Linked DNA regions of Homo sapiens: regions 1, 3 and 4 are each reported to be linked to region 2. Evidence: microRNA targets listed by miRTarBase, many of them from high-throughput screens and not tested one by one. Region 2 holds a microRNA gene; each other region holds the end of a gene's coding sequence.
Evidence for each region. Region 2 holds the annotated microRNA hsa-miR-548ag (AAAGGUAAUUGUGGUUUCUGC, at 3,406-3,426, opposite strand). A microRNA usually pairs through its seed, bases 2 to 8, with sites in the 3' UTR of a target mRNA and lowers its output. Matches are read on the target gene's strand: a 7mer-m8 pairs with bases 2 to 8, a 7mer-A1 pairs with bases 2 to 7 and ends in A, and an 8mer does both.

Region 1 (8,160 bases), not on the chromosome of region 2:
CTACTAAAAATACACAGATCAGCTGGGTGTAGTGGCACACACCTGTAATCCCAGCTACTCAGGAGGCTGAGGCAGGAGAATCACTTGAACCCGGGAGACGGAGGTTGCAGTGAGCCGAGATCGCACCATTGCACTCCAGCCTGGGCGACAGAGCGAGACTCTTCTCAAAAAAAAAAAAAAAGGCAGAAGGAGAAACCCGCCCCCCGGCCCTGTGTGCAGCGGCAGCCCCAGGGGTGCTTTGTCACCAAGCTCAGGACCCCGTCCTCAGCGCCTGCAAATGTGGCCAGGCTCGTAGAAAAAGGCCGGGGTGCTTGCGGGCCTACATGCTGATCCCCATGTCACTGGGTGGCTTGGAGAATTCCCGGGATGGCAGCAACACAGGCAGGGAGACCCCCCACCCCTACCCCACACTCTGATCACCGCCAGGGTCATGGTAGAACATTTGCCTCAAGCTTTGCAGTGGGATCTGCATTAACTGTCATTCAGGACACCAAGAGCTTAAAGCAAACCCCCGTCTCTATCCTGAAAGCAGTCCCCCTCCACAGAGTGATGTCTCTGTAGACAGTCCCAGGCGCGACAGGTCTTCCGAGGACCCGTTAGCAGATTGGCCCCTCCGGCCCTGCCTGCTGTGAACAGTCCAGGCATGTGTCCAGGTGGTGGCCCGGGTGTGGACCTGCAGGAAGGCCTGTCATCCCCCCGTTGCACTTTGCTGAGACACCAGGGCCTGGTTCGTGTGCCCCAGGGGCCGCACTCTGCCTCCCCAGGGTTCTGAAGCAGGCGAGGGGTGGGCCGAGTGGGATGTGGCACTTCCGCATTTCAGTTGAAGACAGCGCCTCGGGCACCCGGCACCCACATGCGCAAGTACACAAGGGAAGGTTCCTTAAAATCCCAGCGCTGGGCAGCGGCGCTGGGTTTGGTGACAGCAGGGCTGGGGGAGCCCCAGCTCACGCCCCCGTGTCCCACGGGTGCCTACCCAGCCCCCAGGCTAACACAGCTGTCTTCTCTCCTGACAGTCTCCACGACCGTCCTGTGTCAGAAGCTCATGCAGGTGGTCCCCCAGGAGACATAGCCAGGAGGCCGAGTGGCTGCCGGAGGAGCATGCGCAGAGGCCAGTTAAAGTAGATCACCTCCTCGAACCCACTCCGGTTCCCCGCAACCCACAGCTCAGCTGCCCATCCCAGTCCCTCGCCGTCCCTCCCAGGTCGGGCAGTGGAGGCTGCTGTGAAAACTCTGGTACGAATCTCATCCCTCAACTGAGGGCCAGGGACCCAGGTGTGCCTGTGCTCCTGCCCAGGAGCAGCTTTTGGTCTCCTTGGGCCCTTTTTCCCTTCCCTCCTTTGTTTACTTATATATATATTTTTTTTAAACTTAAATTTTGGGTCAACTTGACACCACTAAGATGATTTTTTAAGGAGCTGGGGGAAGGCAGGAGCCTTCCTTTCTCCTGCCCCAAGGGCCCAGACCCTGGGCAAACAGAGCTACTGAGACTTGGAACCTCATTGCTACCACAGACTTGCACTGAAGCCGGACAGCTGCCCAGACACATGGGCTTGTGACATTCGTGAAAACCAACCCTGTGGGCTTATGTCTCTGCCTTAGGGTTTGCAGAGTGGAAACTCAGCCGTAGGGTGGCACTGGGAGGGGGTGGGGGATCTGGGCAAGGTGGGTGATTCCTCCCAGGAGGTGCTTGAGGCCCCGATGGACTCCTGACCATAATCCTAGCCCCGAGACACCATCCTGAGCCAGGGAACAGCCCCAGGGTTGGGGGGTGCCGGCATCTCCCCTAGCTCACCAGGCCTGGCCTCTGGGCAGTGTGGCCTCTTGGCTATTTCTGTGTCCAGTTTTGGAGGCTGAGTTCTGGTTCATGCAGACAAAGCCCTGTCCTTCAGTCTTCTAGAAACAGAGACAAGAAAGGCAGACACACCGCGGCCAGGCACCCATGTGGGCGCCCACCCTGGGCTCCACACAGCAGTGTCCCCTGCCCCAGAGGTCGCAGCTACCCTCAGCCTCCAATGCATTGGCCTCTGTACCGCCCGGCAGCCCCTTCTGGCCGGTGCTGGGTTCCCACTCCCGGCCTAGGCACCTCCCCGCTCTCCCTGTCACGCTCATGTCCTGTCCTGGTCCTGATGCCCGTTGTCTAGGAGACAGAGCCAAGCACTGCTCACGTCTCTGCCGCCTGCGTTTGGAGGCCCCTGGGCTCTCACCCAGTCCCCACCCGCCTGCAGAGAGGGAACTAGGGCACCCCTTGTTTCTGTTGTTCCCGTGAATTTTTTTCGCTATGGGAGGCAGCCGAGGCCTGGCCAATGCGGCCCACTTTCCTGAGCTGTCGCTGCCTCCATGGCAGCAGCCAGGGACCCCCAGAACAAGAAGACCCCGCAGGATCCCTCCTGAGCTCGGGGGGCTCTGCCTTCTCAGGCCCCGGGCTTCCCTTCTCCCCAGCCAGAGGTGGAGCCAAGTGGTCCAGCGTCACTCCAGTGCTCAGCTGTGGCTGGAGGAGCTGGCCTGTGGCACAGCCCTGAGTGTCCCAAGCCGGGAGCCAACGAAGCCGGACACGGCTTCACTGACCAGCGGCTGCTCAAGCCGCAAGCTCTCAGCAAGTGCCCAGTGGAGCCTGCCGCCCCCGCCTGGGCACCGGGACCCCCTCACCATCCAGTGGGCCCGGAGAAACCTGATGAACAGTTTGGGGACTCAGGACCAGATGTCCGTCTCTCTTGCTTGAGGAATGAAGACCTTTATTCACCCCTGCCCCGTTGCTTCCCGCTGCACATGGACAGACTTCACAGCGTCTGCTCATAGGACCTGCATCCTTCCTGGGGACGAATTCCACTCGTCCAAGGGACAGCCCACGGTCTGGAGGCCGAGGACCACCAGCAGGCAGGTGGACTGACTGTGTTGGGCAAGACCTCTTCCCTCTGGGCCTGTTCTCTTGGCTGCAAATAAGGACAGCAGCTGGTGCCCCACCTGCCTGGTGCATTGCTGTGTGAATCCAGGAGGCAGTGGACATCGTAGGCAGCCACGGCCCCGGGTCCAGGAGAAGTGCTCCCTGGAGGCACGCACCACTGCTTCCCACTGGGGCCGGCGGGGCCCACGCACGACGTCAGCCTCTTACCTTCCCGCCTCGGCTAGGGGTCCTCGGGATGCCGTTCTGTTCCAACCTCCTGCTCTGGGACGTGGACATGCCTCAAGGATACAGGGAGCCGGCGGCCTCTCGACGGCACGCACTTGCCTGTTGGCTGCTGCGGCTGTGGGCGAGCATGGGGGCTGCCAGCGTCTGTTGTGGAAAGTAGCTGCTAGTGAAATGGCTGGGGCCGCTGGGGTCCGTCTTCACACTGCGCAGGTCTCTTCTGGGCGTCTGAGCTGGGGTGGGAGCTCCTCCGCAGAAGGTTGGTGGGGGGTCCAGTCTGTGATCCTTGGTGCTGTGTGCCCCACTCCAGCCTGGGGACCCCACTTCAGAAGGTAGGGGCCGTGTCCCGCGGTGCTGACTGAGGCCTGCTTCCCCCTCCCCCTCCTGCTGTGCTGGAATTCCACAGGGACCAGGGCCACCGCAGGGGACTGTCTCAGAAGACTTGATTTTTCCGTCCCTTTTTCTCCACACTCCACTGACAAACGTCCCCAGCGGTTTCCACTTGTGGGCTTCAGGTGTTTTCAAGCACAACCCACCACAACAAGCAAGTGCATTTTCAGTCGTTGTGCTTTTTTGTTTTGTGCTAACGTCTTACTAATTTAAAGATGCTGTCGGCACCATGTTTATTTATTTCCAGTGGTCATGCTCAGCCTTGCTGCTCTGCGTGGCGCAGGTGCCATGCCTGCTCCCTGTCTGTGTCCCAGCCACGCAGGGCCATCCACTGTGACGTCGGCCGACCAGGCTGGACACCCTCTGCCGAGTAATGACGTGTGTGGCTGGGACCTTCTTTATTCTGTGTTAATGGCTAACCTGTTACACTGGGCTGGGTTGGGTAGGGTGTTCTGGCTTTTTTGTGGGGTTTTTATTTTTAAAGAAACACTCAATCATCCTACCGCTGATGTTCTGTGTTCTTTTCTTCTGCGCCAGGTTCTGTGTATAGGAACGTTCCTGGCCCCCTCTTGGCCACCTCATTCCTTCCCACCTTCACACATTCATTCATTCATTCACCGACAGCCCACTTAGGCCGCTGGGTGGGGGTGAGCCATGGGCGGGTTGCACACATGTGAGCACGCACCCCTCGAGGGTGGGGGTGCCGAGCCAAGATATCGGATCTGCCTCGGGAGTGGGGGGCAGGCAGCCTGCGCAGGGATGTTCAGGTGGAGACCACCGGGGAGGAGGGGGAAGGTTCCAGTCCCAGGGAGCTGCAGGGGTGAAGTTGGGAGGGGTTTGGGGGTCACCCGCTGAGAGGATGCGGGGCTCCAGCTCCTGGGAGGTCAGGAAGGAAGCCTTTCTCCAGCCTGGGATCAGAGCAGGAGAGGAAGCGGCACCGATTCTGTGTTCCCAGGACACTCCCGAGCCTCTCAGTTAAGGGGGCGAGTCCGGGGCTCAGAGCATGAGCCCCTCATCCACCTCCCAGCACGGGGTGGGAAGGCAACCATAGGGCTCCGTCCTGGATCCAGTGAAGGCTGCTCCTATCTGCAGGACTCACGCAGTCCCAGCTGAACGGGAGGTGGGGGACAGGCCCTGAGTGGGCCCCATAGTCTGAGTCTTATCCTGGAGCCACCGAGTCCCGCGAGGAGCTGGGAGGGCTCCAGAAATACAAAGTCACTGGAGTGAGCAGTCAGCTCCACAGGGTATTAGCAAAGAGGCCTCCTGGCTGCAGGTCTCCTGGGACTGGGGGTTGGGCGGCTTTTCCCTAGTAGGCTGGGCACCCCCCTCCCCGCAGCCCTTTCTTTAGGGAGACCTTGCCCAGTGATGGACCAGGGCATTCTGGGGTGCAGCTGGGAACCTTTGCAGCAACCAGGGTCACCTAGAGCCCTGGCTCAGGATCTGTGTGAGCCCCCCACTCTGACCACCCAGGCAGGAAGGGCCCACCCACCTCCCATGGGTTCTGGAAGGATTCGGGCGCATTGTAGTAATGTCTTCACTACTGGGAAGTTGAGGCCCAGGCCTCTCAGTGCTGTTCAAAGGCAAATTAATCCAATAGCTCACCCCCTCACAATTGAGAACTGGCTGCCCTCTAAGGGAGCTGGAATTTGGAAAGCAATTTTTGGAGCTGGGGACCTTGGATGGCCCTGCGGCAGGTGCGTACCCCTTTGCGGACTTGACCGTTAGGGTGGGCTTGTCGAGGGACAGGAAGGAGAGAACTCACAGGCTGCCCCACCCCCGACACTGGCCATGTGAGGTCACCGGTGAGACAGGCCCCAACACACCTGCACCAGCATCTGGGGACTCCCTGGGGGCCTGCTGAGTGATATCCGAGGGTGGGGCTGGGAGCCACAGGTGAGCCAGCCCTGCAGGTGCTGCTACCAGCATGGTGAGCAGCCTCAGCCTCGGCGGCCCTCCCAGGTGGCATTTCAGTGACTGCCAGCCCGCCTGGCCCCCAGCCCAGCTGGCTCCTTCGAGATGCTTGGTGCCAACATGGAGCTCAAAGAGCCTTGGGCTCCTGGAAACAGTGAAGGTTAAGAAACCCCTGACCCCTGTGTTCTGCTTGTGCAGAGAAACCTCTTCCCATGTGACTTGAGGGAGACTCAGAGATGCCCCCACCCCGGGTCTACCTAGGGCAAGGCCCAGCCCAGGCCCTGAGTCCCCTTGACCTCGCCGATGACCGGCAGGGATCCATCAGAACAAAATGCTTGCTGACCAAACCCAGCTCGGCTGCTCTCCCTCCCCTAGGCCCAGGACCTGGACCCCCTCAGCCTGGGCCAGCCTGTGACTTCCCACTCCCTGAGACCAGGCTGGCCCGGGGAACCCCTCTATCTACTGCCCCTCAGGCCCCGCGCCCAACTCCCCACACAGATTCTAGCCTTGTTCACACCCCCATAAAATAAAAAACCCAGGCTGGGTGCAGTGGCTCACACCTGTAATCCCAGCACTTTGGGAGGCCAAGGCAGGCAGATCACCTAAGGTCAGGAGTTCCAGACCAGCCTGACCAACATGGTGAAACCCCTTCTCAACTAAAAATACAAAAATTAGCCAGGCATGGTGGGGGGCATCTGTAATCCCAGCTACTTGGGAGACTGGGGCAGGAGAATCGCTTGAACCCAGGAGGTGGAGGTTGCAGTTAGCAGAGATCGCACCATTGCACTCCAGCCTGGGCAACAAGAGCGAAACTCCGTCTCAAAAAAAACAAAAAGCCTTTGCCTAACCCTGGAGCTCCTTGTAGACCCTGTGGTGGGAGCAGAGATCCCCCATTGCGATAGTCCTCGGTGCTGCAATAACCTTTTTTTTTTTTTTTGAGACGAAGTCTCACTCTCACCCAGGCTGGAGTGCAGTGGTATGATCTCAGCTCACTGCAACCTTTGCCTCCCAGGTTCAAGCAATTCTCCTGCCTCAGCCTCCTGAGTAGCTGGGATTACAGGCCTCCCAAACTGCTAGGATGACAAGCGTGAGCCACCGCGCTCGGCCTGCAACCTTTTCAAGTCAACTCCTTTAAAAACCCTGATTTGTTCTTCATCCCTCAGTCCCCTGCCGAACACCAGTCAGAAAAGCTCCTCCTGCCCTTGAAGAGAAATGCAGACGCCCCACAGAGCTGCAGCCCCACCAGCCCTGGCCCTGCCCAATCTCCCTTTTCCAGTCAGGCTGGGCCCCTGGAGTCCCCGAAGCTCTGCCCCGCACCCCCATCCGCCCCCGTCCCGGGGCTTTCCACTGCCTTCCACTTAGCCTGGATCACTCTCCCTCCAGGCCACCCTTCATGGTCAGACGCCTGCCCTGACCCAGCCCCTGTCCCCCCCCAGAGCACGGTCTGCACCCGCAGTGCTGGTGTTAGCGTTCTTGCAGTCACCCATGGGTGCACCCCCACCCCGGGAAGGTTCCTGAAGACAGGTCATCTGCCCTGTCCCCCACTGGGTCCCCCAGTTCCAGGGTCTGGTTGAACAAAAGCCTTGGTCAGTATTTGTGGAAGAGGTGAAAAAAAATGAAGCCAGCACCCCATCTCAGCTCGGGGGCCCCGAGTGAGCGGCGGCCGGGCCCCTTGGGTGGGGCGCAGGTCTGCGGGAAGGTGGGAGGGGCTCCCTTCTGGGCTGCAGCAGTTACGGGTGCCCAGAGACCGGCCAGGCCACTGCAGGGACCAACGTCCAGCCCTGTCGACGGAGGTGGACACAGGTAGGGGAATGTCAAAATCAAAGCCCGACCCAGACTTTTTGTTTTTCTTTGAGACAGGGTCTCACTCTGTCACCCAGGCTGGAGTGCAGTGGTGCAATCTCAGCTCACTGCAGCCTCGACCTCCCAGGGTCAAGTGATCCTCCTGCCTCAGCCTCCTGAGTAGCTGAGACTACAGGTGTGCACCGCCACACCTGGCTAATTTTTTTTTAACTTTTTGTAGAGATGGGGTCTTGCTATGTTGCCCAGGCAGGCTGGTCTCAAACTCCCGGGCTTAAGTGATCTGCCTGCCTGGGGGGTTCCCAAAGTGCTGGGACTACAGGTGTGAGCCATAGCACCTGGCCAATCCAGACTTTTTTTTTTTTTTTGAGATGGAGTCTTGCTTTGCCACCCAGGCTGGAGTGCAGTGGCGCAATCTTGGCTCACTGCAAGCTCCGCCTCCAGGGTTCACGCCATTCTCCTGCCTCAGCCTCCCGAGTAGCTGGGACTACAGGTGCCTGCCACCACGCCAGGCTAATTTTGTTTTTGTATTTTCAGTAGAGATGGGGTTTCACCGTGTTAGCCAGGGTGGTCTCGATCTATTGACCTCGTGATCCACCCGCCTAGGCCTCCCAAAGTGCTGGGATTACAGGCGTGAGCCACCGCGCCCGGCCTTTTTTTTTTTTTTTTTTTTTTAATTGAGATGGAGTCTCACTCTGTCACCCAAGCTGGAGTGCAATGGTGTGATCTCAGCTCACTGCAACCTCCGCCACCCGGGCTCCAGTGATTCTCCTGCCTCAGCCTCCAGAGTAGCTGGGATTACGGGCACTTACCACTATGCCTGGCTACTTTTTTTAATTTTTATTTTTAGTAGAGATGGGGTTTCACTATGTTGGCCAGGCTGGTCTTGAACTCCTGGCCCCAAGTGACCTGCCGGCCTCAGCCTCCCCAAGTGC
Region 2 (8,160 bases):
AAATCACATATGCATGTGTCAGAGCAATGGTGGACACCCCAGAGGCCCTTCAGACTTGTCCAGAGAAACCCTCCCTGGGAAACACTTGGGGTGTCCTGGTAGTGTCTGACAGATCATGTGGATTGTTCTTAGTGGCTCAAGGAATGCATCGAGTTCTCTTTCTGGCTTCTCAATGTTTTCTTGAGAAGAAATTGTTTTTAATCAGCTCCTTTCTAGTGTTTGCTTTTTCCTGAGCAATAGTCAAGGTAATAAATTAATTACTTAGAGAAAATCCATGTAGTTCTGTGTTGACATTTCCAGATAGAACACCTTAAAAATGTATAGCGTCTCTCAGAGTAGGTGTTCCCATGCATTTGAATGATGCAGCGTTAATGCCAAGTGGAACAGTAAGTCAACTCCAGGTTTAGGCACAGAATTCAAAACGTTGCCAATTTCTCCTAGTTAAAATGTAGTTGAAAGTCACATAGTTTTGCACAAGTTGGCAAACTGCAACCTGTATTTGTGTAGTCACTGCCCCAGCTGGGAAGCAGGAGGCCCTGACACACCTCAGCTGGATTTGTCTTGAATTAGGCAGGTACAATCTAAAGCAGGAGACCCTGCCTTGTTCAAAGGCCAGTTATGGACTCAAACATACAAACTCCAAGGCAAGATGCCCCATTGCCACTGATAACTCTGTTATTTTATGTGTCCTGTCTTAAAGGATAGCCTTTCTCATTGGGGCCCCACCCTGAGGGAGCCTCCTCCACACCCTTTGGTCGGCTACGTGTCCCGCTGAGTGCGGCCATTGGATCAGCAGTCCTCAGACTGAGCCAGAGCAGCTGGGGCACACAGAGCTCTACCATGCTCACTGTTGATGGGCTGAGGAGCCTTCACCAACTGACTTGAGTTGACGCAGACGCAACCTTCTGTGGAGTACAAATTCCTCTTGTTAGGATTTTCTCCCTTCACTGAGATACAGGTTGGGTTTCATGAAGACCTACAGAATGTGCACTGTAGGGAAAGAACACAGGACCCCTCACTCATCCATACACAATTCAAAATTAAAGAAGACAAAACCATAAAAGAAACCTAAGGAAGTCCATCAAAAGTTTTATTTTCTCCTAAGTAGGACTTTGTGTTTTGTGAAAGAGGAACAGCCTTTAAAACACTTTTCCCCCCCATTTCTCCACCTGGCTGGTAGTCTGAGCAGGTGTAGCTCCCCTATGGCTGAATCCAGCCCCGAGCCCAGTGCAGAGCCAGATGGGGGGACGGCAAGGATGAGGCCGTGCAGGTGGGTGCTGCTCGTGTTTTGCACGCTATCACAATTTCTCAAAATTGTCATTTGCTTTTTATTTAGTTCTGTTGAAATGTGGATTCTCAGGACCCTCTGGCTTGTCTTTCGCCATCTGCAGGTGGGCCTTCCTGGATGTCTACAATCGTCTGCAAGCCACCCTGCTTCACACGCCCTCATGGGACATGCAGGGGAGCACAATTCCCGGCTCAGGGTCTTGCTTGTGACACCAGGAACCCCTGAGCTAAACTGCAAGCCTGGCCCCTCTTACCCTGTGAATCTCTGGGCAATTATCCCCTCTGGTCTTCAACTTCCTGGCACACAAAGTGTGGCCACAATAGGGTAACCATGCATGTTGTTTTTCAAACTGGGGTGCTTTTAAGAGCACAAAGGGACAATGTGTCATTATGTCACGGCAAAAGGTGGAAACAGGTTCCAGACTAACTGGGTCCTATGGGTTAGTCCTATGATTATGATACGCCCTCTTCCTCAGAGGGCCCTTTCAAGTATCCAATGACATAAAGAAAGGGGTGTAAAGCGTGTGGTCTCTAATAAGTATCTGTAACACCATGTATCACCAGTGTTGGTGTCACATCATTAAATATCCAGGAGGCATTTTATTGTTTTAATTATGCTCTTACAGCAAATAAAGAAGAAAAGCTGAGGAAAGAGGGACCTGTTGACATGATGATGAAGCCTACGTGCTCACAGCGTCGTCAATACAGAGCCTGTGTCTGATCCATGGGCACTGAACAGGGGAAAGAGACAGCCAGCCCTGTAGGACAAAACGCTGGAGGATGTCACAGTTCTTCCACTTCTTCCACATCTGCCTTTCCAGTCCAGAGGTCTGGATCCTTGTTGGCCTCTGCCCACAGAGGGACATGACAGGCAGCGTGTGCCTGGGCTGTTTTCCCACCAAAGCCTGGTCATATATTAGCCCTGCACTGTGAGGAACAGATGGAGTATGTGGTGTCCCAACCCTTCCTCATCTCGTTTTTAATTTGCCAACCAGCCCCGTTGGGAGGAGCCAAGGGATGCAGTGACTTTGCTGCTCTTCCTCGGGTTCTGCCCAGATATGTAATTTCTATAAAAACACAAATTCTGCTGGTTTGCTTGATGGCAAACTTTCAGCTTTCTTTCAGGAACTTGTTCTTCAAAGAGATTGTGTCTCAGTAAACCTGTTCCTATGTCTGTTGCTTTATATTGCACAAAATATAGAACTTTCGCACATCATAACTGGAGAGCATTTTTGTGACTTTTGTGCCAAAGAGGCTTCAGTCCTTAGCCCACAGATGCTTCCTGTGATCAGGAGATGGTGTGCTGTTGGAAGTGGCTTCAATCCAAGGCTTCCAACAACGACACCGTCTCAGGTTAAAAGGCTGGTGCTGTGTTCTGGCAAGCACTGAGAGCTGCTGGCTGGATAGGAACCCTCCCCGCCCTTGTCTTCCTGCTTGCTAAGCAACTCCAATTTAGTCCAGGACAGTAATGCATCCAGCCTTGTAACCAAGAGGAAAAAGAAAGGCCCAGAGCGCTGATGTGAGAGCTGCTGACACCATGAAAGCAATTGCCTGGAAAACAAGCAAATGAGCAGGCAGACTCTGTTAAGTCATTGTCACCAGCACACTTGAACCCAGGGAGCGCTTGGCCAAACCCAATTGTGATTAAAATGTACCCAGTGTCTTTGCACCCAGCTGCGTTAGATTTTCTGGGATTTTCTTTATGGTCCCCCAAAAACTCCCCAAACTCTCTAAGCCTCTTTTTCTCCCTCTGTAACTTAGGCACAATAATAACTCCTGGATGAAGTGTTCATGGGCCTTCAACAGTATATCTGTGAAAGCGTTTTGCGAGCCAGATATTTGTTGTCACTATTCGTTGGTGCACAGATTCCGCCTCAACCTGCAGAGGGAGGACCAGTGTGGTTTATCCATAGAAAGGGAAGGGGCTGCCTGAATTCCAGATGGATTAAACTCTCTCTTTCTGTTTCTCCCAGCCTTCTCCTACTTCCTTCCCTGAGCTCCTAACTAAAAGCGAAGGCTGGGCTGCTAAACAGCTGTGTGTCCCCAGGAGGAAACCCATGGTGGGCGTGTATTAGGTCGCTGCAAAGGTAATTGAGGTTCTTGCCTTTACTTTCAATGGCAGAAACCACAATTACCTTTGCACCAACCGAATACGTTGTTTGACTCACATTTACGGAGAAGCCTTCACACACAGCTCTTCAGCTTGGTGATTCCTGCTTCCGGAGAGTGGGCTAATTAAATTAGGAAGGGAGCGGGTTGTCATTAGACAGCCAGAGACACTATCACCCATATCTAATTTTGTTCCTGGTTTTAGATAGAGTCATCTCCTTTTGATGCATATAATTTAAGAGGTTAATAATTTTGGCTTCGAGCATGAATAATAATTCATTATTAGCAGAACAAGAGAGAGATTCGGCTTTCTATAGTAACACTCGGTCTGAATTTGTTTTTCCTTAAGTTAGGAACAGGAGGAATGCGCTTTTTGGAAGTTCAAAACCGCCAGTTTGATAGTGTTCCCAGCAAGTCTCATTTCAGTTACAGGATTAACAAATCAGACACTCGCCCTTGGTATCTAATTAGCTTTGTCATTTATTGAATTTCAGAGTTCCCTAGTCAAAATAAAAGACCTTTCCCTACTTATATTAAATGATCATGCTAATCTCCATTTTAACACAATTAAATTTTACTCAAATTGTTTAATTTTTTAAAAAGTGAGAAAAATGTCAGGGACTGACTAGTGTTTAAAACAAATGACCGTTCTCCACTATGAAGCCGTTGGCTGTAAACTACCATCTCTATGATTTCCCAGAAGGACAGGGGTACATTAGAATGAAACATCTGCCCAGAAGAGTCTCTAATTACAAGAAGTGTAACACAAAAAACCTATTTCCCGAATTAATTCCTGAAAGTTGAACTAATACTAAATGCTAAATACTGAAATACTCAAAATACTAAAAAATACTAAAATCCAAGGTGAAAATAGACTGCCAGTGAATAAACAGACTTGTGATAAGGAGATCCAAAACCAGATTGTTCCTTTGGAGACAAACAGATGTCAGCTTCTTTTGTTTGTTTCATTTCTCTAGGCCAATGTGCTGACTGCTTATTATTTTCAGTATGATAAAGTTTTATTGGAAAGTAGCCTCACCTATCTGTTTAGGTGTTGTCTGTGGTTGCTTTGACACTGTGACTGAAACTGTGGCCGTCAAAGCCATGGCAAAGCTAAGGAGAAACGTCTTACAGCATTAGCCTTTAGTTCCAAAGTCCATGTTCAAATTCATCCACTATTCTTTTTTAAAAAATAGATCTGTCCCATAACAAATACATACAAACAAACACACCCCCACCTGCACACAGCCTGAAAACTGAGATGTAATCGTTTAATAATGATAATGGAATACTGCAAAATTTTTCCTAATTTTTCTCTGTGACACCACAAATATGCATTGTACCACTCGTGTTCAGTTTATGTAATGTCAATGCCCATTTCTGCTTATTGACTCATTTTATCATACAAAACTGACACAAGCTTCTGATTAATCTGTCTCCAAAGGATCAAAATGCTTTAATAAATACATTGTTCCTTTAGGTCTGGGAAGAAATGAAACTGTTAGCTTAATGTACTGTGACATTGAATGAAAACCTCTGGTTGCATTTAACTGGAAAGCCAGCTAGATAAATCCGGAGGACCCGTTAAGTAAATGACACCACACTTTCTTAATGGCCAATTGGGGCCTACCTTCCTGAAGCAAATAAATAAGAAAGATTTGAAATGGAATTTGGGGGTTTCGTTCGTTGGTTAAATTCTCAAAGGGGTGGTGTACCTTGGATAGAAATTATGACAAAAATCCGTGGCTTAAGGTAATCCTAATAGGGAGAGCAGAGAGAGAAGAACAAAACAATCTCGGTTTTTTATGGGAAGAGGTGAAGACTCACAAGATGGGAGAGAGCCCTTCATCTAGCGGTTCTCGAACGTGGTGTGCCCCAGAATCATCTGGGGATCTTGTTAAAAATGTGTGTTCCTGGTCTGGATCCCAGGAGACTCCAGCACAGGCTATGCTGCCCGTGCTTTCTTTAACGGCTCTCTCCTTTCCTTCAGAATCCCTTGAGGCGGGTGATTTGCTCTGTCAGGCACACTGCTGGCTCCTCCCCTCCATCACCACAGCCCTAAGCATTAATCCAACTATGGCCATTGAACAGGGCCCTTTCTCCTGGATGTGAAACCCAAATCCCCAGCTTTCCAAATAGCACTTGGGGGTCTCGTCTAAGGCCAAGGGCAGGGCCTCCCCTGGACAAGCCATTGTCAAGGGCTCTAGCACCAGTGATCACTGCTGCTTAGAGAAGAAAAGTGGTGTGAAACTGACCTGCTCTCTGCTGGGAGCCACAAGCTGGAGGAGGCGGCTTTGGGTTTCAGCATTAATGCTTTCCCTGCAGATCTTTGATTTTCCTTGATATCTGTGTTCTCCCCATGCTCTCCCATCCCTTGTCACTGACAGGTGCTTCTTACCTGTCCTCTTGCCCCCCTCTATTCTCTGTTATTGAAAATAACATCTCTATGAACAACTCCTTCTTCCTGCTCTCCACCGAGTATTTGGGGACATCCATGCCACTGTGATCAGCAGGACTCTCATTTGCTTGGCATGTTCAGTCTCCCAAGAGCTCCCCAGCCCACTTACAGGACAACAAGACCCCCAGACCCAATGAGGCCACACTGCCCACATGGTTTGGTGATACAGGGCACACCATTTTTCGGGGGTGGAGAGTCAGTCCCTGAAGAATACTACAAAAGGAACAAGGAAGATGCTCCTGGGAGCAGGGATAAAGGACAGGAACATTCAACCACATTTAGGATTTTCATGACTCAGAAATGAGTGGCCAAATATCTGGACTTCAGATCTTGTCAAAGAGCTTTGTGATGGCCAAACACTTTTGGCTCTGTTACAAGTCATCCTATTTACTCAGCCCTGCTAGCCATGTACTAGAAAGTTCTACAGCTTGTTCTTCTCTACCACTGAATCACATCTGAAAACTTATCTTAGGTGCTTCTTATTCATTTATAGCTATGAGATGCTTTTCCTCTTTTTTTAGATTTTGCCATTTGAAATGTGAATCTCCCCCTGCTCCCCACCAACACCTTCCATCAGAAGATGTAATTAGATGGGCCTCTACCTGCATTGTAGCCGCTGAGGAGTTGATTATATCTGAAGTCAGGTTTCAGGAAAACAGACTGGGAGGTGGATATTTTCCTGTGGCAGGTTCACAGGGAGTGTTCTCAGCAACACCCGACAGTGGAGGAGAAGGGCTGGGCAAAGGGAGAAGCTAAAGTGCAGTGCAGTTGCCCAGGAGGCCTCGCCAATCTCCAAGGGGACCCTGGAGATGGAAGGCACTTCTTTTTCATTCAAATTGAGGCAGCATGGCTGGGCCTTTTTACCACTGAGTAGACCAGCCACTGAGCCTGTGTTGTCCCGGGGAGGGGATATAGGCTAGGGTGAGGCCATTGTCTTGGGGAGGTGCAATGCCTAGAGAAATATAGCTGTCAGCTGACAGCAGCCAGAAGCCCTGCAGAGGGACATCAGGGGCTTGGTCTTGAAGGGATGATCTGGGCCATGGACCCCAGCATCCAGAGATTTACCTTTCAAGTTACAGAACCATCTAGCTGGCCTTGTTTTGCTGTTTGTCTCTAAAAGCAGATTCTGCAGAAATGAAGACATCCTATCTCCTCCTCTCTTGAAATCAGATTTATCCTCAAAAGTCGTCTACATCCAACTGCTCTCCCCACCTTAGTGTGAGCTACCATCATCTGTGCCCTGTGCTTCCACAGCTCCCTGAAATGTTCTCATGCTATTACAGCCATCCCACTACTCAGCAGCTAGTCCAGCATCACCCTCTTCTCGGGACCCTCAGTGGGCTGTTCATCAAACCCTATCCGACACCCAAGCCATGGTCCACAGGCTCCCAGTGATCTGGCTGCCCCTGACCCCTCCCTGCCCTGCCGGCCCCTCTCCCTCATCCTGTCGAGCGGTGTTGGCTTCCTTCCAGTACCTGACATTCCAATCTTTGCACATCTCTTCTCCTTTCTGGGGCATCTTGCCCTAGATTCGTGGCTTACTCTCTCAGCTCCCAGCCTCTGCTCCAACCTCGCCTTTCTGAAGGAGTCTTCCCTAGACGTCCTGGGACAGTGGCCGCCTGTCACCCTCTAGCATTGGATCCTGCTTAGCTTTTTGCTGCGGCCGTTTTCCTGTCATACTCCTTTTATTCTGTGTCTGTTTAGTTGTGTGATCCCTGCCCCACCCCCTCAAAATGAAAAATGTAAAATTCCATGATAATGGTGACTTTGGTTGTTCACAGTGGATAAATTTTTTTTTTTTTTTTTTGAGACAGAGTTTAGCCCGGGCTGGAGTGCAATGGCACAATCTCGGTTCAGTGCAACCTCCGCCTCCCAGATTCAAGCAATTCTCTTGTCTCAGCCTCCTTAGCTAGGATTACAGGTGCCTGCCAGCATGCCCGGGTAATTTTTGTATTTTTAGTAGAGATGGGGTTTCACCATGTTGGCCAGGCTGGTCTTGAACTCCTGACCTCAGGTGACCCACCCGCTTTGGCCTCCCAAATTGCTGGGATTACAGGCGTGAGCCAACATGCCCGGCCAAGAAATTTCAATTCTTTAGAAGACAGGGATCCTTCCAATAAGTGGCCTTTTAGGAGCCACTTGGCGAGGTGCAAGACCTCATCTTCGGGGCAGCCCATTTTCGCTTCTCCTTTCTGAAAGTTCTGTTGATGAGTTTCTGCACATCGACTTCAGCCGATTAAGCCTTGGAAAAGGCGATTCGGGAGCAACTTACAATGTCACTGGGAACCAGAGTTGGCCCATCACAG
Region 3 (8,160 bases), not on the chromosome of region 2:
TTACAGGCAGGCACCACCATACCCGGCTAAATTTTTTTTGTATTATTAGTAGAGACAGGGTTTCACCACGTTGCTCAGGCTGGTCTCGAACTCCTGACCTCAAGTGATCTGCCCACCTCAGCCTCCCAAAGTGCTGGGATTACAGGTGTGAGCCACCATGCCCAAGCCAAAGATATTGTTATTTTTAAATAATTTACTACAATTTGCCAGGGGCAGTGGCTCACACCTGTAATCCCAGCACTTTGGGAGGCCAAGGCGGGCGGATCATGAGGTCAGGAGATCGAGACCATCCTGGCTAACATGGTGAAACCTCGTCTCTACTAAAAATACAAATAATTAGCCGGGTGTGGTGGCATGCACCTGTAATCCTAGCTATTCGGGAGGCTGAGGCAGGAGAATCGCTTAAACCAGGGAGGCGGAGGTTGCAGCAAGCTGAGATCACGCCACTGCACTCCAGCCTGAGCGACAGAGCGAGACTCCATCTCAGAAAACAATAATAATAATAATAATTTACTACAATTTACCTGCTGCAAGACATTAAGTATACTGTAAATAAATTAATGCCCCCTCAACAACATAGGTACCATTTTTCCAACTATCCTCTCTGTCTAAAAAATACTTTAAAAAAGGAAAAGAAATTAGGTTTATAGACCTGAATTTTAAAATTAGAGGTGCTAGGGAAAAACAAAAACTTGCTGCCAGCGCGTGCACAATTTTTTAAAAGCCTAATACTCTAAAATCCATGTAACTTTCAAGTTATTAAATTTTCCCCAATGTTCAAAATTCTGTATGACCATTTCTTTATCTGACTTACATGTATAGATCATTTACAATAAAAAATAGTATGTACTAAATTTTTAGAAAGGCTCTTTAAAATTGCTATATACTATGCTAAATATATTCATTAGGTTAATAACTGTATATATTTCTACTAGTATATAATTATACATAATTTAATTATTTATTAGATTTTATTAACTCTATGATACTAACATTTAGTCTTATACATTCTTTACCAAGAATAAATGAAAAGATATACTATAAGGAAACAACAATCAAAATCCATGAACGTTTTCTAATAATTTCATGGATCTTCCAAGGTAATAAAAGTGTTGTACAATTTGCTTTGTACGAAGCACTATGAGAGACAAAAAGAATTCCAAAAGTAACAGAATATATCCCTGCTTTTAAGGATGTAATGTATGTCACAATACTGGAACATATGTAAAGAGATTAAAAAGGAACAATATAGAATATGGAACACGGGATCAATTGGATCCCTTAGCACCAATACTGTCAGTCTTGGAAATGCAGTCAATTCCTAACATCTTTTTCATAGATGCAAGGCACTTTAAGAAGACATCAATAAACAAAGAGCTTATGGAATAATAAACTTGAACATTCCTCAGTTTCACAAACTAAAGATGGACCAATTACACTAACTCTTGTGACTACTAAAAACAAAAATAGTCTGGGTGTGGTGGCTCACACCTGTAATTCCAGCAGTTTTGGAGGCTGAGGCGGGTGGATCACTTGATGTCAGGAGTTTGAGACCAGCCTGGTCAACACAGTGAAACCCCGTCTCTACTAAAAATACAAAAATTAGCCGGGCCTCGTGGTGCGTGCCTGTAGTCCCAGCTATGCGGGAGGCTGAGGCAGGAGAATCACTTGAACCCAGGAGGCGGAGGTGCAGTGAGCCAAGATCGCATCACTGCACTCCAGCCTGGGTGACAGAGCAAGACTCTGTCTCAAAAATATCTATAAATAAATAAAAATAAAACTTTTACCAGAAGATTAACAAAATATTTTTACATATAAATTATTTATTTAAAATAAAATAATACTTAAGAACTATTAACTTTCTGTAGCAACTAATACAACTATTACATGTCCATAGTCATGAACACAATTCCACAGATTCTAGGTCTCTGGCCTATAGATCTGGCATTGTCTCCCCTTCTATTAATCCACCAAAATTACAAGTGACATCTTTCCAAGTGTAAAAAGACTCAAGTCTACATTCAAGTTTGGATCTTTACTTGGTACTAGAATTCCACATGTCCACTAATTCTCATTTTTAAAAATACAGTTTCTGCCACATCGCCTCAGCAAAAATGGGATCTCACCCTCATCAGAGCACCGCAATTAGCTCTGGATTATTCCTCAGTAAGAAAGGTGGAAAGCTGGTGAGACACAAGAGAAGGTTCCTAGGAAAGTATTATAATGAGTTAAAGTAATCCTGAAGAAAGTTTGAGGCTGGTGGCTCAAGCCTGTAATCCCAGCACTTTGGGAGGCTGAGGTGGGTGGAACGCTTGAGCTCAGGAGTCCGAGACCAGCCTGGGCAACATGGCAAAACCCCTTGTCTACAAAAAAAACAAGAAAATCAGCTGAGTATGGTGGCACACCCTGTGGTCCCAGCTACTCAGAAGGCTGAGGCAGGGGGGATCGCTTGAGCCCAGGAGGTTGAGGCTGCAGTGAGCAGAGATCATGCCACTGCACTCCAGCCTGGGTGACAGAGAGAGACTGTATCAAAACAAAACAAAATAAAACAAAACAAAAACAAAAACGGAAAGTTTGAAAGAACAGAAATCACGTAGCCTGGCAAGAAGTTGACTAGGGAACTTTTTAGATGATAATTCCCAGAAAACAGTGACAGTATTTTAGATGTAGCTATCCACCCACTTCTCTCTATCCTTACTAACACTGCCTTAATGCAGACCATCATTTCATCCTTGAATTGCTATAACCACTTCCTGTTTCTGACTCGACTTTTGTCCCTTCCCAGGCTAGTCTCTACATAACAGCTAGAGTTATCTTTCTGAAATGTAATTCTGACCACTTCAATGCCTGGCTCCCTACCGCGAGTCTGAACACTACCCTATAACTGCCTATTCATCTTGGTCTTTGCATCTCCTACGTTACTGTAAGCTCCATGAGAGCAGTCAGTTTCAAATTCACAGCTGATGACTCCTGGCACCTAGTACAGTGCCTGGCCTAGTTGGCATATGCATATTGGTTGAATTCACGAATAATATTAAGAAGATCCTCACGCTGAAAAATATTTAGCAACTGAACAAATGGCCAAAGAAAAGCATCTACAACAGAAAAATTAGAAAGTCCTCCTGGTACACCTGGAGAAATTTTTTTTTTTTCTGATAGTGCGAACATGTAAGTTTGCTCAATTTTTTTTTTTTTTTTTTGAGACAGAGTCTTACTCTGTCGCCAGGTTAGAGTACAGTGGCACAATGTAGGCTCAATGCAACCTCCACCTCCCAGGTTCAAGTGATTCTCCTGCCTCAGCCTCCCGAGTAGCTGGAATTACAGGTGCCTGCCACCACGCCCAGCTAATTTTTGTATTGTTTTTTTAGTAGAGATGGAGTTTCACCATGTTGGCCAGGATGGTCTCGATCTCCTGACCTCGTGATCCGCCCGCCTCAGCCTCCCAAAGTGCTGGGATTACAGGCGTGAGCCACTGTGCCCAGCCTAAATTTGTTCAATTTTTAAAAAACTTTGAAGGTCAAAAAGAAAACCAGGTATACATTTTTTGAGACGGAGTCTCGCTCTGTTGCCCAGGCTGGAGTGCAATGGCGCGATCTCAGCTCACTGCAAGCTCGGCCTCCCAGGTTCACGCCATTCTCCTGCTTCAGCCTCCCGAGTAGCTGGGACTAGAGGTACCTGCCACCACGCCCGGCTAATTTTTTTGTATTTTTAGGAGAGACGGGGTTTCGCCATGTTACCCAGGATGGTCTCGATCTCCTGACCTTGTGATCTGCCCGCCTTGGCCTCCCAAAGTGCTGGGATTACAGGCGTGAGCCACTGCGCCCAGCCTAAAAGCAGGTATACATTTAATGTTTAGCAGATGACTAATTGTCCATAAATTTAAAAATTATTCTAAATATATTTTTTAAAGATAAGGTCTTGCTCTGTTGCCCAGCCTGGAATGCTGTGGTGATCACAGCTCACTGCCGCTTCTGGGCTTAAGTGATCCTCTTATCTCAGCCTCCCAAGTAGCCAGAACTAGAGGTGCACACCACTACGCCTGGCTAGTTCTTAAATTTTTAGTAGATACGAGGTCTCACTATGTTTCCCAGGCTTCTCTTGAACTTCTGGCCTCAAGTGATCCTCCCACCTCAACCTCCCAAAGCATTGGGATTACAGGCATAAGCCACCATACCTGGCCCTATTTTAAATTTCTTAATACAAATAGTTTGGTTTTATCAAAGGTGGATTCAGGTTTTGTGGGGGCCTAAGGTTTATATAATTAGAAAACAGGGGAACCTTTTTATGAAGTTAAAAAAAAAATCAGTAAGACTATGCATAATATAAAATTAAGAACAGGGCCAGGCATGGTGGCTGACACCTGTAATCCTAGCACTTTGGGAGGCCGAGGCGGGCAGATCACCTGAGGTCAGGAGTTCGAGACCAGCCTGGCCAACATGGTGAAACCCCTTCTCTACTAAAAATACAAAATTTAGCTGGGCGCCTATACTCTCAGCTACTTGGGAAGCTGAGGCAGGAGAATTGCTTGAACCTGGGAGACGGAGGTTGTAGTGAGCTGAGATTGCACCACTGCTCTACACAGCCTGGGTAACAGAGCAGGACTCCGTCTCAAAAAAAACACTTTTTTAAATTAAATTAAATTAAGAACAGGGTCAGAGAAAACCTAGACAAGCAAGGGCTCTGCAGCTTCAGCTTTGTTAGCTTCACAGTAAATCTACCTCTAGTCATAAAAACAAAATTCCCTTTTTATAATTCCTTCATAATTATAAATTATAAATTATAGGCAAGATGTTCAACACTAATATTTATTGTATATAAAAAGAAAAATTTCTAAGTTGCTAATGAAAATCAACTCTTCTTATCAAATTTCAGTAATTTCAGTAACATATTTGCCCCTTTTATACTACAATAATCTCACAATTATGTAATTGTATAAACCATACTAGAAGCAAAGTGAAGGAAGGTTTTAGTTAGTTGTTAATAACTACATCTGATTCCAGTTGAAAAAACCAGTAATTTTTTAAATGCCTTTTTAATTTTTTTTTTTTTTTTTTTTTTTGAGACAGAGTCTCGCTCTGTCACCCAGGCTAGAAGGCAGTAGTGTGATCTCGACTCACTGCAACCTCTGCCTCCTGGGTTCAAACAATTCTCCTGCCTCAGCCTCCTGAGTGCCTGGGACTACAGATGCAAGCCAACATGCCCAGCTAATTTTTGTGTTTTTAGTAGAGACAGGGTTTCACCATGTTGGCCAGGCTGGTCTCAAACTCCTGACTTAAGATGATTGGCTCACCTCAGCCTCCCAAAATGCCTGGACTAAAATGCTTTTTTTTTTTTTTTTTTTTCCAGTGGCTGTGCTCCACGTATAATTCACAGAAAATAGCTATTGGTGAAGAATAAAAACAACATTGAGAGATCTATTAAACTTATTATCACCCCTTTTACTTATTAAGAAACTAATTATTTTAAAATAAGAATCTTTATGTCAAATAAAAATAAGATGCTAAGACAAGGAAACTGTAAAGCCGTTCTTGTTTTGGCATTTAATTTCAAGTAATTTGAGCTAATGGCACTGTTATGTACTGATGTCACTCTCTCTCATGGAAGGGAGTGGGAAGGGGAGGAAAAGAGAAATCTTGGCTTCAAACAAAATATTCAGATTATGCTGAGACATAAAACAAAAGTGGACATTCTTTATAAACCATGCTGTGCTGAAAGTTGCTGCATGCTGCTGACCCTCTGGGTGGGTTTGTGAGACCTGGGCACTCATTGGGTAACTTGTAGAATCCTTGCCTCTTCCTAGGAATTTAGCCAGAATAGCTTAAACAGTGGCTGGCCTATTCTATAGAATGGGGAGAAGGTGACTCTTAAACAAGGCTGAATGAAAAATAGGCATGGGCTGTCAGGTATCTATGATTTGGTTGAAACAGATAAACCAAGCTGAGAGGTAGAATGTCCTCTCTGGTATTCTGACATTTTAGAAAACTGAGACGACCGTTATCTTTCCCCTTCTTTCTCCTTGTTGGTACAATAAACAGGGCAGGAAATGATGGCCCCTTGTTTTTTTTTTTTTTTTTTTTTTTTTTTTTTGAGACAGAGCCTTGCTCTGTCTCCCAGGCTGGAGTGCAGTGTCAAAATCTCGGCCCACTGCAACCTCCGCCTCCAGGGTTTAAGCAATTCTCCTGGCTCAGCCTCCCGAGTAGCTGGGATTACAGGCCTGTGCCATCACGCCCAGCTGATTTTGTATTTTTAATAGAGACGGGGTTTCACCATGTTGGCCAGGCTAGTCTCAAACTCCTGACCTCAAGTGATCCGCCCACCTAGGCCTCCCAAAGTGCTGGGATTACAGGCATGAGCCACTCCGCCTGGCCTCTTTTACAGACCAAACTCATTGTTTCCATGCCCATCCAGTGCTATAAAAATAATTTAAAAACATAAAAACAGAGTGGCTGATAATGAAGAAAAAATCCTTACAAAGTACTGAATTGAAGCTGAAAGTCTCTCTAAAAAAAAAACAAACAAACAAACAAAAAAAGCCTTTGTGCCAACCAAGTCTCACCCTCCCTTTCCCAAAGATATATATGTTAAACCAAAATAAGGGCAGACCATGCAACATTTTTCACATTTTTAATGTAATGAATTTCTGACGTTATAATGGAGGAGCATAAAGGTGACAACCAAAAACAGCTCTTGTAGTCTAATGTCTTAAAATCCACACCCTTTCACCTTGCATGTGTGGAAGAAGAAAGAGCAGAAGATAAAATCACTTCCACCTGGACCACTGCTTTTCTTTATCTGTTAAAGGCACGTATATCACCCCCATCAGAGGCTTCATTTTGATGCTGCCATCTTGTAGCTTGTCATACTGCTCCAACATTTGGTTTCCGCCTGCAGGACCAACAGGCAATATCAATCTTCCTCCGGGCTTTAACTGATCTATTAGCTAAAAGAAAAAAAAAAAAGCACATACATCACCAAGTTACAGATTTTATTTTATTTTATTTATTTATTTTTGAGACAGGGTCTCACTCTGTCGCCCAGGCTGGAGTGCAATGACACGATCTCAGCTCACTGCAACCTCTGCCTCCCAGGTTCAAGTGATTCTCCTGCCTCAGTCTCCCAAGTAGCTGGGACTACAGGCACACGCCACCATGCCCAGCTAATTTTTGTATTTTTAGTAGAGACAAGGTTTCACCATATTGGCCACACTGGTCTCGAACTCCTAACCTCAAGTACTCCACCCACCTCGGCTTCCCAAAGTGCTTGGATTACAGGCGTGAGCTACTGTGCCCGGCCCAGATTTTATATTAATAGTCATTTGACATCATTATAAACAACTTTTAGTGTCCATAGGCAGAAAGCAGAAACGTTCTTTATTTAGTATATACAAATTAAGGCCAGACACGGTGGCTCACGCCTGTGATCCCAGCACTTTGGGAGGCCAAGGTGGGCAGATCACTTGAGGTCAAGAGTTCAAGACCAGCCTGGCCAACACAGTGAAACTCCAACTCTACTAAAAAAGTACAAAATTAGCCAGGCATGGTGTCAGATGCCTGTAGTCCTATCTACTTGGGAGGCTGAGGCAGGAGAATTGCTTGAACCCAGAGATGGAGGCTGCAGTTAGCCAAGATCACGCCACCACACTCCAGCCTGGGTGACAGAGCGAGACTCCGTCTTAAAAATAAATACATAGTATATACAGGTTGAGCATCAATAATCTGAAAACCCGAAACTGGAAATGCTCCAAAATCCAAAACTCTGAACATCAACATGACACCACAAGTAGATAATTTCACACCTGACCTCATGTGGCAAGTCACAGTCAAAATGCAATCACAACTTTATTCCATGCACAAAATTATTTGAAATATTATACAAAATTACCTTCAGGCTATGTGTATAAGAGGTATAACATAAATGAGTTTTATGTTTAGACTTGGTCCCATTCCCAAGATATCTCATTATGTATATGTAAATATTCCAAAATGTGAAAAAATCTGAAAAAATCCAAAATCCAAAACACTTCTGGTCCCAAATATTTTGGAGAAGGGATACTCACCCTGTACATACTTTGATTGTTATATTATTACTCAACTATCAGCCTCCTCTATTAAACGACAAGCTCTTGAGGATGGGGACTGTGTCTTATTCATCTTTGTGTCT
Region 4 (8,160 bases), not on the chromosome of region 2:
CCATAGGTCTGTTATTGTTTTTGCTAAATATTATTCTGTCTTTAACTTATCAATAAGAATGTATGCTCTGACATACATTGTGCTGCATTTGTTGTATATGAAGATAGGATTGGTTCTTGTTGCTCACACCTATAAGCAGAAAAATGCACTAAGGCCATGGAAGTATTCAGTGCTAAATCAAGAATGATATAAAATAGTCTCAACTTAAAGGCCCTTACCCAAATTTGAAAATGCTGAAGAATTAACTTTAAATTTTCCGTCAATACAGGACTTTTTTTTTTTTTTGACCATGTGACATAGAAATACAATCTTGTTTGTTTTATTTGTTGGAGAAATGACTCTTTTGGTAGGGGAAGAAAAATGTAAGCTGATTTCCTTAATAAGAGGTGATATTTTTGATTATGTGCTCTTAGAGTTAAGACTAACAAAAATGCTAGTTTGTCAGGTCATTATATTTGAAAATGAATCCATATAAATGAAATTCAAGTAGTAATTTTAGAATGTGATTTCATCCTGTGGGCAATCCTAGAGATTCTTACAAGTTAAGATACAAAGTAACAATTGGTGATTTTATCCTTATAGCTTCTTGAGTTTCTGTTACTGGATTAGTCAAATTTTTTAGAATTAAAGGAAAGCATTGACTGAGTTCTTTTTACTCTATTTATGTAACAGTTGTGTTATTCACATTAGAAAATGTAGTAGCGAGTATTTCTTTGATTATGAATAATAGCTGAAAAGTCTACCTTTAAAGAACTTAATTGGTTTCACTAAGATTTTTGCCTTCTCTCAGGTCAAAGATTCTAAACTGCCTGCATATAAGGATCTCGGTAAAAATCTACCATTCCCTACATATTTTCCTGATGGAGATGAAGAGGAACTGCCAGAAGATTTGTATGATGAAAACGTGTGTCAGCCCGGTGCGCCTTCTATTACATTTGCCTAACATCTTTGGACGTGGCAGAACCTTACATATTCTGTGAGCTTCGATGAGCCAGAGTGATATCATAACCACCAGAAATCATACTCTCCTTTCTTAGTCACAACAAAATCACACATGTCATCTTTGTCAAGGGCATAAATATATCATTCATACCCCCATTAAATTTTGTTAGAAAAATTACCACATTAAATATATGAGTTAAGTAGATTGGATTTGCTGAAATTGGTGTTGGGCATATTAGCAAAATATTCTTAATTTGTGGACTCGATTCTTTTTTACTACATATTTCCCAAGTTATCTTAAGATGTCTGTAAATTTAACTTTTATTAAAGTTTTGTCAATCTTTGTGAAATAGTGGTTGTGGAACAGTAGAAAACCATATGGGGACTATAGTGCAACCTATTTGGGTAAAGAAACCATTTGCTAAAATGGAGAAAGTAAATAGATTTTTATTTAAATTACAGAAACATGTTAAAGGCCGGACAAAGGAAAGACAATAAAATCATAAATTATCGGTCCTGTTTACATTTTTGTTGGGAGAGGTGATTACTTTTTAGTTTTATCACTCAATTATAAGATCAGTGTGTTTTGGTTTTGTTTTGTTTTGTTCTGTTTAGGCAGGGTTTTGCTGTGTTGCCCAGGCTGGAGTGCAGTGCAGTGGTGCGATCTTGGCTCACTGCAGCCACGACCTTCTGAGCTCAAGTGATCCTTCCACCTCAGCCTCCCATGTATCTGGGACTATAGGTGCCCACCACCATGCCTGGCTAATATTTGTATTTTTTTGTAAAAATAGAATCCCACTATGTTGCCCAGGGTGGTCTTGAACTTCTGAGTTCAAGCTTTTTACCTTCCATGGCCTCCCAAAGTGTCAGGATTACAGGCGTGAGCCACTGCACCCAGTCTACCTTTCAAAAAGAATTTATAATGATCTAAGATTGTATGTTCAGCAAACTTTTATTAATCATGTATTAATCAAAATGCTAATGGTTTGTGGGTTTCTTTTTAATTGTATGAAATTAACATGTATTTACTAATGGCTAGTCATGACAAATAAGCTTAACCATGTGTATAAGCAGACCTCAGTTTAAATACTTGATTTCCTCTGAACCAGATTCTTAATTCACATCACCCAATACGTTTGTTAGTCATAGTGTTAGATTTCCATGTGCTATACTGTCCTGGTTATATCACGTTTTTCACTTCAAATCCAAAGGTAGCCACGTTTTTTTAAAGTTTTTATTTATACTTTATCTTATTCCATTAAAAATGTATGGCAATTGATAGGAAATCCACTCAATAAAATAGAAAAATAAGAGAAAAATATTTAGGATAATATAAATTAGAATAGGTGGTATTTTGGGGGAGGGAATAGTGTCAATGTCATATAGATGAGCAGGCTATGCTGTGCAGAGTTGTTATATTCAGATAGTTTGGTTTTGAGCTTCCTGGGTGCTAAAGTAAAACATAACATTATTTTTTATGTACTGTTCATTATTCATGAGTTTGATTAGTGATAATAATAGAGTGTCATAGTCTTTAACTGGAGTAGATTACATTTAAAACCACCACACCATATTTGGTTAAAAAAAAATATCAAACTAGAAATTTGTTAACTTGTTAAAAGTTTATCTCTAGTAATCATCATATACAAGGGTAAAATGCTAGAAGAATTCTTTTCAGGGATCAAACAAGGATACCCTCTACAACTTCTCTTCAACAGTATTCTTGGGTGTCCTAGCCAGTGCAGTAAGACAAGTAAAAGTAATGAGATAAATTGGAAAGTAGGAGCAAATCTCATTATTTGTAAGAAATATTTACCTAGAAGATGAAAGGTAGACAACTGACAAGCTATCAGAACCAATAGAGTTGAAAAAGGTAACAGTACAAGATTAATACACTAACATATAGCAATATTTTATGGGAAAAATGGATATTTATTTATAATAGCAATTAAAAATCACCTAGGGAAAGCCTAACAAGAAATATGCTAGAGTCTTATGTTCTTTTTTGAAAGATAGATAAGAAAACTTCAATAATGGAGCAGAATATCATGGCCATGAATGGGAAGGTTATATTGTAAAGAATTCATTTGAATCCTGTTTTAAAACTCTCAATAGGACTTAGAGCTAGTCAAACTGATTCTAAAATTCATGTGAAAGTGTAAATTCAAGAATAGCCACTACTTAAAATGGTACACATTAGATATGCCCCCATACTATGCTTAGGAACTTATACGGACATACCTTAGAGATATTGTGGGTTTGGTTTCAGACCACGGCAATAAAGCAAATATCACAATAAAGCAAATCACAGAATTTTTAGTTTCCTGATGCATATAGAAGTTATACTGTACTGTAGTCTATAGTGTGTTTCAATAGCATTGTATCTTTAAAAATATACATACCTTAATTTTAAAATATTGTCAGAAAATGCCAAAGATCTTCTGAGCCCTTAGCAAGTTGTAATCTTTTTAGTGGTAGAGGGTCTTGCCTCAAAGTTGATGGCTGCTGACTGATCAGGGTGGTAGTTTCTGGAAGGTTGGGTGGCTGTGGCAGTTTCTTAGCATAAGGCAATGGACTTTGCCACTTGATTGACTCTTCCTTTCACAAAAGATTTCCCTGTAGCATGGAATGCTGCTTGATAGCATTTTGCCCACAGTAGAACTTCTTTCAGAGTTTGAGTCAATCCTCTCATACCCTGCTACTGCCTTACAACTAAATTTATGGAATTTTCTAAATCTTTGTTGTCATTTCAACAGTGTTCACAGCATCTCCACCATAAGTAGATCCAATCTCAAGAAACCTCTTTCTTTACTCATCCATAAGAAGAAACCACTTTTACTCATCCATAAGAAGCACCTCCTTATCTGTTCAAGTTTTAGCATGAGATGGCAGCAATTCAGTCACATCTTCAGGCTCCACTTCTGCAGTTCATTCCTCCACTGGAGCCTTGAACCCCTCAGAGCCACTCATGAGAGTTGGAATCAACTTCCAAACACCTGTTAATGTTGATATTTTTACTTTCTCCCATGAATCATGAATGTTCTTAATGGCATCTAAAATGGTGAATCCTTTCCTGAAGGATTATGGCAACTTCATATATTAAGGACTATGGCAACTGTAACCTTACAAAACATATTTCTTAAATAATTAGAGTTTGAAAGTCACAATTACACGTTTATGCATGGACTACAGAATAGATGTGTTAGGCATGGAAACAACATTATTCTTGTACATCTTCATCAGAGCTCTTGACTAACTTAGGTGCATTGTCAGTGAGCTGTTATCTTGCGAGACAAATGGACAGTTATTTCTGGGAGAACATAAAATCTTTTACCTGCATTATTTGTGAAAAAGGAATCAGTATATGAAGGTAGCCAGTTGCCCAGACATAAGATTTTTTGACGAAGGCAGGCAACCTTCTGCACTTAAAGAGCCTGCCCCAAACTTACCATCTTCTTTCACTATAGTCGGTGGTCTGTGGATCTGTTTTTGAGTTTTAAAATAGCATTTCTGATCACCTTCCAGGATTACAAGTATGATCCCTGTCTTCTAGAATCAGGGAACAAAACTTTCACTCTCACCCCCCAACCCCAACCAGTCCCCACTGCCAGCAGCTTCTACAGGTACATATCCTTTGAAGAGGATCCAGACTCCATTCTGGCAAACTGAGTGGCCCAGACGAACTGTGTCCTTCTCTCCAGTTGTGGAATACCTAAACCAGTCTGCCTAGTCCAACACTACAAAATGTGATTTCCCAAGAACCTTAGGGTTACTATTTCTGGCTACAGCACAAACATTTTGCCTCAGCATCTGTCCTCAAATGTTCAGCTCGGAAATGGAAGTCTGCCTACTATAGATAGGGAGTACATGGTCCCAGTACTCTCCTGCTCAACTCTCTGGATCCCAGGCAGTACTAGAAGTCTGCTCTTGAGCAGTGCTGACCACTGGACAGATACGGTGGCAATTCACTTCTCAGCAGTGGAGCTGTCTTGGGCCTGAGTTGAGCTTGAGTTTGATTTACTGTTTTAGATTTTGTCTTGAAATGGAGAACCTTTTTGTAATTAAACTTCATTCAAATTAGACATTTGTTCCAGCATACTTGGTACTAGCTATTAGGAATAAAATATGGAAATACTGAACCTTGGATAATTCTCTAAGTCTTATAGAGGCCAACAGATTAAGGAATACTTTCAAGAGTATCCCTTACACTACTTAGACTACTGGTCATCCTTCCTCTCCAAGACCTTTTTCCTACCTGCTAGGGTAGCCGAAGCTGAAATGCAAATGTTAATTAGTCCTATTTCCACAGTGGCCCCTGGCATGGGTAAATTGGATGATGCCAGCTGTCACAAACATTAAGTTGTAAATGAAAATATTTCTTACAGCAAGTATAAGGATATACTTTACAAGAATATTAAGCATTTCAGAATCAGTAGTGCTTTTGAGTCAGTAGTGCTTTTGCAGTCTAATGGTGAGGTACAAATCTGCTTTTCAACTTTCCTCAAGGGGTAGAATATAAGGATGACCTTTACAGCTAATTTCCAAAGGTAAATTTGCAGATGGGACCTGACCATGTTTCAGGACATATGGAGAAATGTGTATAGAACTATGGCCTGTTTTTCTAGTGTAAAGAGTATTAGAATACAGTCAAACACACGGAAGCTGAGTTCGTACTTAGGGTTCCTCATATGCAGAATGAATTCCGTTAGTCTGTAGGATTACTTGCCTTACATCCAGTAGCTTATTTTGTTGTACTAATCAAAAAACCCCTCTTTGAGAAAGAGTGTGTCAGAGTGAAGTCTCTCCTGATTCCAGCAAAATTGAACCTACGCCCTAAATCGTTGCCCAAAGAGAGACTGTTGGCTGTGTCACAGTGAAAACCCATGATGGGAGGAAAGAGCAGTGTTCAGATTGCTGACTCTGAACCTGTTATTTGGACCTCTGGGATGAATACCTTTAAATGTTGGTGTTATTCCTCATTTTTGTCAGAGTAGAAACACAGTGTGGGCTTCCTGTGGCACTGAGTCTTGCAAACTTGTCTTCTAGCCTGGAGTGTGATGTGCTTCTACTAGCTACATTATTTTTCTATGGCTGATTCTTTTCCCTTGGTAGGATGTGTGTGATTCTAAAAATGCCTTTTACTGCCTGTTTTGCCTGAAGGTCACCACTTGGGAAGTTTTCCCCACTTTTGCAGGAACTATGGCAAGAAGAATGTTATGTTTCTATTATGGTACTTATCATGTTACTGCTTATCATGCTTTTATGAACAGTTTTATAATGGAGCACTTTCGTGATGAGGTAGGGCATGTTGCTGATAACTTACTGAACTGCTGAACCAAGAGAGTGAAGACAGGCAGACAGAAGCAACTCACTATGCTATGAGGCCACCTTGGGCAAACATCTTCAATAGCTTTATAATCATGTGTTACTTCATGGCTACCTGTTTTCTCTATGGGAAGAAGTTCTTCACATGAGAGTTTATTTTAGTAGTGATAGATAAAGCTTCTACTCTCTTCAGGGACTTTTCTTAAAGTTGACTTTACTATAACAACAGACAGTTCTTCAGTTTTCAGTTTTATTGCTATTTCTGCTAGAACACCTCATCCACCAGCTTGGCCCCATAAATGATAGTGGTCTCTCAAAGCATGTCCCACCAGACAAATGAAGACTGTCATTCAGACTTTGCCTCCAGCAATTACCTAGGATTCCCTGGAATAAGAGGACTCAGTGTCATTATCCCCTCCAGAAAACAGCCAGTCCTGAGCATGCAGGGTTGCCAGCCTCAATTTCATCGTTTGCTTTTCTGCTTTTAAATGTTTGCAAACAATAGCAGTCCATGTCACATGTTTTATTCTTTTTAGATTAATGAGGTGGCCTGTTCAAGTTAGACAGGCCATATTAATTTCAGCGAATGCGGTCCTTAGCACCACAAAAGCAAACAAATGATTTTAACTCAACTGGACAAAGAGTCTTGGCATAGTAGGTGCGTAATTGTTGGTTTTTGGATTTGACTGGAGAGTGAGAGTTGTGATTTTGATTCTCCAAAAGCAGACTATATGAGCACCAAGTATATTTTAGGTCATTTAGAAAGTTTGTTGTTTGAACAAATGAGGATAAGACATCCATCAGTTTTTGACACTGCACCAAATCTGCTTGATTTCAAAAGGAACTAACTAAACACTCCATCACAAGAGTCCTGACAAAGATGCACGGATGGCTATATTAACGAGACTGTGTCAAAATGAATAATAATAAATGGCTGTCTTGAGAATCCAACGTAAATTTCCTTATCTAAAATAGTGGTTTGTTTAAATGATGAAGCAAAGATGGCATTGGAGCTGTTGGCTGACTGTCCCTTTTTTTCTGCTAACTGCAGAAGCACGGAATCTGATGCCCTACTTTGTGGGGTAATGGTGTGCTTATCTCCCCCTCCTCAAACAGAGTTTGGCACGTTGCTAATAACAGCCAGCCTACTGCTAAAATATCAATGACAGAACAGAAGAAATAGATATTTAGGAAAACATAAATCAAAGCTGAGGAAGTAGGCAAAAAAAAAGCACTGATAGAAAGCAAATAAAGAAAGATCTATAATATTGGGACAGGCAGCATCTCCCTGCTCACATGGTAATTTTCTTTAGCCAGTAACCAACGAGGATGCCTGCCATGGGAAGAAGGTGTGATTTTGTGATTTAATGATCCAAAGCCCATTTTTAGACACCACTTAGCCATAAAGAGAGGCCCAAGTTTCTGTGGTCCAGGAGTCATTGAGATAAGTATTTATGACAAGGTCCACCCAAACACAAGGGGACACAAGAAGGGGGCATGTCAGGCACAGGGAATTTTCACAGTGGCTTACAAAGGCAAGTCTTACTCTTACCTAACACAGTAGTTCTCCACACTGGCTGCATGTTAGATCCCCACAGAAGAGCTTTTAAAATCCCCAATCCAATATTCTTGGAATTGGGGGGCAGGAGAGAGTAGGAGACCCAGTCATTAGTGGTTTTTAAAGCTCCCCAGTTAAATATTTAACTCCCATTTGAAGAGGGGCTAATAAGCTGAGATTAAGAAATACTGACCTAAAACAACATGACGTAGACAGGCAAATCATTTGTGGAACTCAGGCCAGTTAATTGGTCATCTCCCTGAAACAATTCAAATTGGAGAAAATTCTGTACAAATGTAGTAATAGTGATGTTTTATATGTGTATAGTATTTTAA

Region 1: the mRNA of SLC7A5 is a reported target of hsa-miR-548ag. Seed matches in the 3' UTR shown: 7mer-m8 at 3,106-3,112.
Region 3: the mRNA of PCMT1 is a reported target of hsa-miR-548ag. The part of its 3' UTR that is shown has no 7-base or 8-base seed match.
Region 4: miRTarBase lists MRPL3 as a target of hsa-miR-548ag. The part of its 3' UTR that is shown has no 7-base or 8-base seed match.

The regions. Positions count from the first base shown.
Region 1 is chr16:87,825,879-87,834,038 of GRCh38, reverse strand. SLC7A5 (solute carrier family 7 member 5) reads left to right here. Exons shown (of 10, transcript NM_003486.7): 10 at 1,014-4,016. The coding sequence ends at 1,069. Among named protein-coding and RNA genes, the nearest start is that of MIR6775, 4.7 kb to the left of the region's middle. RefSeq lists enhancers at 1-8, 1,903-2,491, 3,670-4,257, 5,436-6,025, 7,983-8,160 and a silencer at 5,358-5,427.
Region 2 is chr20:60,559,831-60,567,990 of GRCh38, reverse strand. It overlaps MIR548AG2 (microRNA 548ag-2), which reads right to left and starts at 3,429; the gene lies at 3,366-3,429.
Region 3 is chr6:149,800,980-149,809,139 of GRCh38, reverse strand. It overlaps PCMT1 (protein-L-isoaspartate (D-aspartate) O-methyltransferase), which reads right to left. Exons shown (of 8, transcript NM_001360452.2): 7 at 6,724-6,940. The coding sequence ends at 6,761. It overlaps LOC107986660 (a long non-coding RNA gene), which reads left to right and starts at 3,801. Exons shown (of 2, transcript XR_001744415.1): 1 at 3,801-3,837; 2 at 5,347-6,015.
Region 4 is chr3:131,455,506-131,463,665 of GRCh38, reverse strand. MRPL3 (mitochondrial ribosomal protein L3) reads left to right here. Exons shown (of 10, transcript NM_007208.4): 10 at 791-1,454. The coding sequence ends at 943. Among named protein-coding and RNA genes, the nearest start is that of SNORA58, 20 kb to the left of the region's middle.